2 separate regions of the Homo sapiens genome follow, and region 1 is linked to region 2. Evidence: fine-mapped expression QTL. A gene starts in region 2. The other region holds a variant in brackets. All regions are shown on one strand. Distances are from middle to middle. Region 1 holds the start of H1-6 (H1.6 linker histone, cluster member). Region 2 holds the start of HFE (homeostatic iron regulator).

Evidence for each region. PIP is the estimated chance that this variant, and not a neighbour inherited with it, causes the effect.
Region 1: its variant is the best candidate, but not a certain one, in a credible set for the expression of HFE in whole blood (TOPMed, PIP 0.50).

Annotation. Positions count from the first base shown.
Region 1 is chr6:26,107,592-26,110,504 of GRCh38, forward strand. H1-6 (H1.6 linker histone, cluster member) reads right to left here and starts at 544. Exons shown (of 1, transcript NM_005323.4): 1 at 1-544. The coding sequence starts at 502. The variant T/C (reference allele first, on the strand shown) is at 1,449.
Region 2 is chr6:26,085,829-26,088,741 of GRCh38, forward strand. HFE (homeostatic iron regulator) reads left to right here and starts at 1,601. Exons shown (of 6, transcript NM_000410.4): 1 at 1,601-1,688. The coding sequence starts at 1,613. It also overlaps HFE-AS1.

The DNA of each region.
Region 1 (2,913 bases), 22 kb after region 2:
TCCCGCTCCTAACAGTTTTAGGAGTTGTCGCTCTCGGCTTCTTGGCTCTCTTATTGGTTTTAGCAGTCTTTGGTGACTTGGAGTCCCTGGATAAAACCAGCTTCTTGGTCTTGGCAGAAACTGACTTTTTAGCCTTGCTTCTGGTAGATTTAGGAATCACCTTCTTACTAAGCTTAAAGGAACCGGAAGCACCAGTACCCCTGGTTTGCACCAGGATTCCCTTGTTCACTAAGCTCTTGAGGGACAGTTTGATGCGGCTGTTATTCTTCTCTACGTCGTAGCCAGCAGCGGCCAATGCCTTCTTGAGCGCAACCAAAGACATACCTACTCGTTCCTGTGACACTGAAAGGGCCTCGGTGATCAACTTGGACACAGAGAGGTTCGGCACTTTGCGACTTGCACTTATCAAGCCAGCCGGCTTCCTCCCTCGCTTCTTGGTTGGAAGTTTCTCCATAGCGGCTACACCAGCACTGGCAGAAGCTGCAGGCACGGTTTCAGACATAACAACAGAGAAACGCAAGATGTAATAACCAGCGAAAAGCATGAAACACCCGGGCGGCCTCGGGGCCTTATATAGGGTAGGGCGCGCTGTGATTGGTGCATCACCTAGGCACCGCCCCCGCCCCTTGGAGGAGGAGTATTTGTGTTTGTTTTACCCGGAAAAGTTGAGTATAACAAAACCCCTCTTTACAGAATCTCCCAGGGTCTAGTGCTGAATAATCTGCGGAAATTCATATTTGACATGACTTTTCTCTTTTTAATGAAAAATGACCCTGGATGCCAAAACTATTCGAGAAAGCCCTCGATTTTCAATCAAATTCACGGAGAGGAACAAAACTTCCCCTTTTCCTTGTAAATTAATAAGTAATCTTTGGCAGAAGACTTATTTCATCTCTTCAGAGTGGTCTTCCAAATGGATAGCTTCAAATCGGTAGAGGAAAGAAATTATTCACGCCATGATTTTTATTTAAAATTATTTATATATGTGAGGGAAGTAACACAGATCTCTTAGCTGTCTAATTGCGGAGTCAGAAGATGCTTATAGAATTGTCAAAAGACTGCAGAGGATGTCTTTATTTAGGCATGTGCAATCTAATAAATCATAATCCACAGGAACATGGGTTGTCTGTAATTAAAGGTGCTCCCAAGTCCCTGTAGCTTTATAGAGGACTCTCAAGGATGGGGTAATATCAAGATCTCACACATTATGTAAGATTGGCCATAATCAGGCCACTCTCATGACCGGTGTCCTCAACTGAGTTTTGCTTCTGGTTTCATTAATTGAAGTCCCCTCTATCCCCCTGCCCACCCCTACATCCCCAGATAAACAGACACAGTCCCTCCCCTAAATTAACTATAAAACATGAGGTAGGAACCCTAGACTCAAGAACCTACTAGAAACTACAGACCCCATGTCTAACAAGACTGGGCGGGTTGGCTGGGCGCAG[T/C]GATTCATGCCTGTAATTACAGCACTTCGGAAGGCTGGAGGCCAGGAGTTCAAGACTAGGTTGGCCTGGTCCCTACTGAAAAAAAAAAAAATTAGCTGGGTGTGGTGGCACATGCCTGCAGTCCCAGCTTCTGGGTAGACTGAAGAGGATCACTTAGAGCCCAGGAGCTTGAGGTCGCAGCTACTGCACTCCAGCCTGGGCAGACCCTCATCTCTGAATTGCTTAATTAATTAACTGAGCTGGCAGATTTGGCTGCATAGCTGTGGGGAAAGGGTTGTTGGAATAATGTCCAGTGTGCTCCCCTGAGCTTCTACTGGAACAGGTCTTTGTGAGAGGCCTGGAGATAAGAGCTTGCTCACAAAGGCTGAGGCCTTTCTGGGATGCTGAATGAGTTTAGTGTGGCCAGAGCATAGGGTCTCAGCAAAGGAAAACTCCATAAGGGCCATTTGTGAAGATCCCCAAATACTTGTGTGAAACATTTGGTAGATATTAGAAGTTTTGTTTTGGTTTGGTTTGAGACAGAGTTTTGCTCTTGTTGCCCAGGCTGGAGTGCAATGGTGTGATCTTGGCTCAGTGCAACCTCCACCTCCCAGGTTCAGGCAATTCTCCTGCCTCAGCCTCCCAATTAGCTGGGATTATAGGCGCCCACCACCATGCCTGGCTAATTTTTTGTATTTTTAGTAGAGATGGGGTTTCATCATGTTGGCCAGGCTAGTCTCGAACTCCCCACCTCAAGTGATCTGCCCGCCTCTGCCTCCAAAGTGCTGGGAATACATGCGTGAGCCGCCGCGCCCGGCAGACATTGGAAGTTTTTAAGCAGAGAATTTGTTGTATTGTTGTAGTTGTCTTGGGTTTAGATTTATTGCATAAACAATCATTTTTGAGAAGGGCCCACAGTCAGAAGTTGGGAGTCTGTTGCAATAGTCTCAGAAGAATGGCAAAGACCTTGCCTAAGGGGACAGTGTGGTAAAGGAGAGAGTCTACATTTGAAATATTTCTGAAACAAAAGCCAAAAGATAAGACTTCAAACTTCTGATTGCAAAGTGAGATAGAAAAGTTTCTTTCTCTCTGTCTCTCTGTTATACCCATACACACACACATATGCACAAACACCTGAAAGAAAAAAAAATTCAGGGAACAGGCCAGGTAGGGTGGCTCATGCCTATAATCCCATAAATTTGGGAGGCTGAGGCTAGTGGATCACTAGAGCCCAGGAGTTCACAAGGCCAGCCTAAGCACATAGCAAGACCCTGTCTCTACAATTAAAAAATTACCCGGGTGTGGTGGCACGTACCTGTGGTCCCAGTTACTCAAAAGGCTGAGGTGGGAGAATCACTTGGGCCCAGGAGGTCAAGGCTGCAGTGAGCATGATTGTGCCACTGCACTTCAGCCTGGGCAAGAGCGAGACCCTGTCTCAAAAAAAAAAAATTTTTTTTTTTTTTCCAGAAAACAATACTATCTTAAG
Region 2 (2,913 bases):
ATGCTAATTATATCTTACCAAAAATTGAAAAAAAGGAATAGTACTATCAGCCCCAATGTGCCCATCATCAATATTCTACATGTTTCCAATGTTATTGTATCTGTTTGCCTACAGTCGAGGCCCTGATATCCTGTTTGATTTTCTTGAATTGCCAAAATTTGCATACATGCTTACAAAAATAATGCCTGTTGAATTTGCTAGATATGTAAAGGTTTGGAGCAAATCAGGTGTATTAAATTTATTAATATTGTTTGAAATGTCTAAGGCAATAATTCCCAAACTTCGTTGAGGGAGAAGGAAAGCTTTTAAAATCCCATTGCCCAGGTGGCATCCCATACTGTTACTGGGAATTATGCATTGGGATGGATCCTTTAACCGAGGAGATTATTATAGCCGGAGCTCTGAACCAGCAATCTCAGTTCTTGTGATAGTGAGCAAAGAACTACAAACTAACACCAAAATGCAAGCTTAAAGCAAAGTTTATTGAAGCACAATAATACACTCTGAGGGACAGCGGGCTTATTTCTGCGAAGTGAACTCAGCACTTCTTTACAGAGCTCAAGGTGCTTTTATGGGGTTTGTGGGGAGGAGTTGAGGTTTGGGCTGTATCTGAGTGACAGGATGATGTTATTTGATTGAAGTGTATAGCTATACAATCTAAAATTAAACTGTGCATGGTCTTACCTATAATTTGTTAAGAAAAGCCTCCCAGGGATGGGGGGGCAAAACTGTATGTAAATTCTATTATAATGATGGCATGATGAACTTGGGGTGAACTTGAAGACAGGCTTTTGTGTTGTTGGGCATGTGCCACCTTAGGGAATTTCCACCTGTACCCTCCTTTCTCTTTCTCCAGGATATTTTGGCCACAGACTTTATCATAAACTCCATCCCTTAGGGTGGCATTAGGGTAGTCTTGGGCCTGAATTTAGGTGGGCCAGTGGCTGTCTTAGTGACAGCCTTTCCGCTCTCTTCTGTCATCCCCTCCCAACTGCTAATGTCTAACTACCTAACAATTACCCATTAAATCAGTGTGTCTGGGGTTAGGAGCAGGCCTCAATATGTTTAATCATTCTCCAGATAATCCCAATACTGTAAAGTTTGTGAAACACTTGTCAGATAATTCAATTATGAAGGCTGTGGAAGGTGTTTCAGTAGGATCTAATTGGTTAATGTTATGACTTAATTAATTTGAATCAAAAAACAAAATGAAAAAGCTTTATATTTCTAAGTCAAATAAGACATAAGTTGGTCTAAGGTTGAGATAAAATTTTTAAATGTATGATTGAATTTTGAAAATCATAAATATTTAAATATCTAAAGTTCAGATCAGAACATTGCGAAGCTACTTTCCCCAATCAACAACACCCCTTCAGGATTTAAAAACCAAGGGGGACACTGGATCACCTAGTGTTTCACAAGCAGGTACCTTCTGCTGTAGGAGAGAGAGAACTAAAGTTCTGAAAGACCTGTTGCTTTTCACCAGGAAGTTTTACTGGGCATCTCCTGAGCCTAGGCAATAGCTGTAGGGTGACTTCTGGAGCCATCCCCGTTTCCCCGCCCCCCAAAAGAAGCGGAGATTTAACGGGGACGTGCGGCCAGAGCTGGGGAAATGGGCCCGCGAGCCAGGCCGGCGCTTCTCCTCCTGATGCTTTTGCAGACCGCGGTCCTGCAGGGGCGCTTGCTGCGTGAGTCCGAGGGCTGCGGGCGAACTAGGGGCGCGGCGGGGGTGGAAAAATCGAAACTAGCTTTTTCTTTGCGCTTGGGAGTTTGCTAACTTTGGAGGACCTGCTCAACCCTATCCGCAAGCCCCTCTCCCTACTTTCTGCGTCCAGACCCCGTGAGGGAGTGCCTACCACTGAACTGCAGATAGGGGTCCCTCGCCCCAGGACCTGCCCCCTCCCCCGGCTGTCCCGGCTCTGCGGAGTGACTTTTGGAACCGCCCACTCCCTTCCCCCAACTAGAATGCTTTTAAATAAATCTCGTAGTTCCTCACTTGAGCTGAGCTAAGCCTGGGGCTCCTTGAACCTGGAACTCGGGTTTATTTCCAATGTCAGCTGTGCAGTTTTTTCCCCAGTCATCTCCAAACAGGAAGTTCTTCCCTGAGTGCTTGCCGAGAAGGCTGAGCAAACCCACAGCAGGATCCGCACGGGGTTTCCACCTCAGAACGAATGCGTTGGGCGGTGGGGGCGCGAAAGAGTGGCGTTGGGGATCTGAATTCTTCACCATTCCACCCACTTTTGGTGAGACCTGGGGTGGAGGTCTCTAGGGTGGGAGGCTCCTGAGAGAGGCCTACCTCGGGCCTTTCCCCACTCTTGGCAATTGTTCTTTTGCCTGGAAAATTAAGTATATGTTAGTTTTGAACGTTTGAACTGAACAATTCTCTTTTCGGCTAGGCTTTATTGATTTGCAATGTGCTGTGTAATTAAGAGGCCTCTCTACAAAGTACTGATAATGAACATGTAAGCAATGCACTCACTTCTAAGTTACATTCATATCTGATCTTATTTGATTTTCACTAGGCATAGGGAGGTAGGAGCTAATAATACGTTTATTTTACTAGAAGTTAACTGGAATTCAGATTATATAACTCTTTTCAGGTTACAAAGAACATAAATAATCTGGTTTTCTGATGTTATTTCAAGTACTACAGCTGCTTCTAATCTTAGTTGACAGTGATTTTGCCCTGTAGTGTAGCACAGTGTTCTGTGGGTCACACGCCGGCCTCAGCACAGCACTTTGAGTTTTGGTACTACGTGTATCCACATTTTACACATGACAAGAATGAGGCATGGCACGGCCTGCTTCCTGGCAAATTTATTCAATGGTACACTGGGCTTTGGTGGCAGAGCTCATGTCTCCACTTCATAGCTATGATTCTTAAACATCACACTGCATTAGAGGTTGAATAAT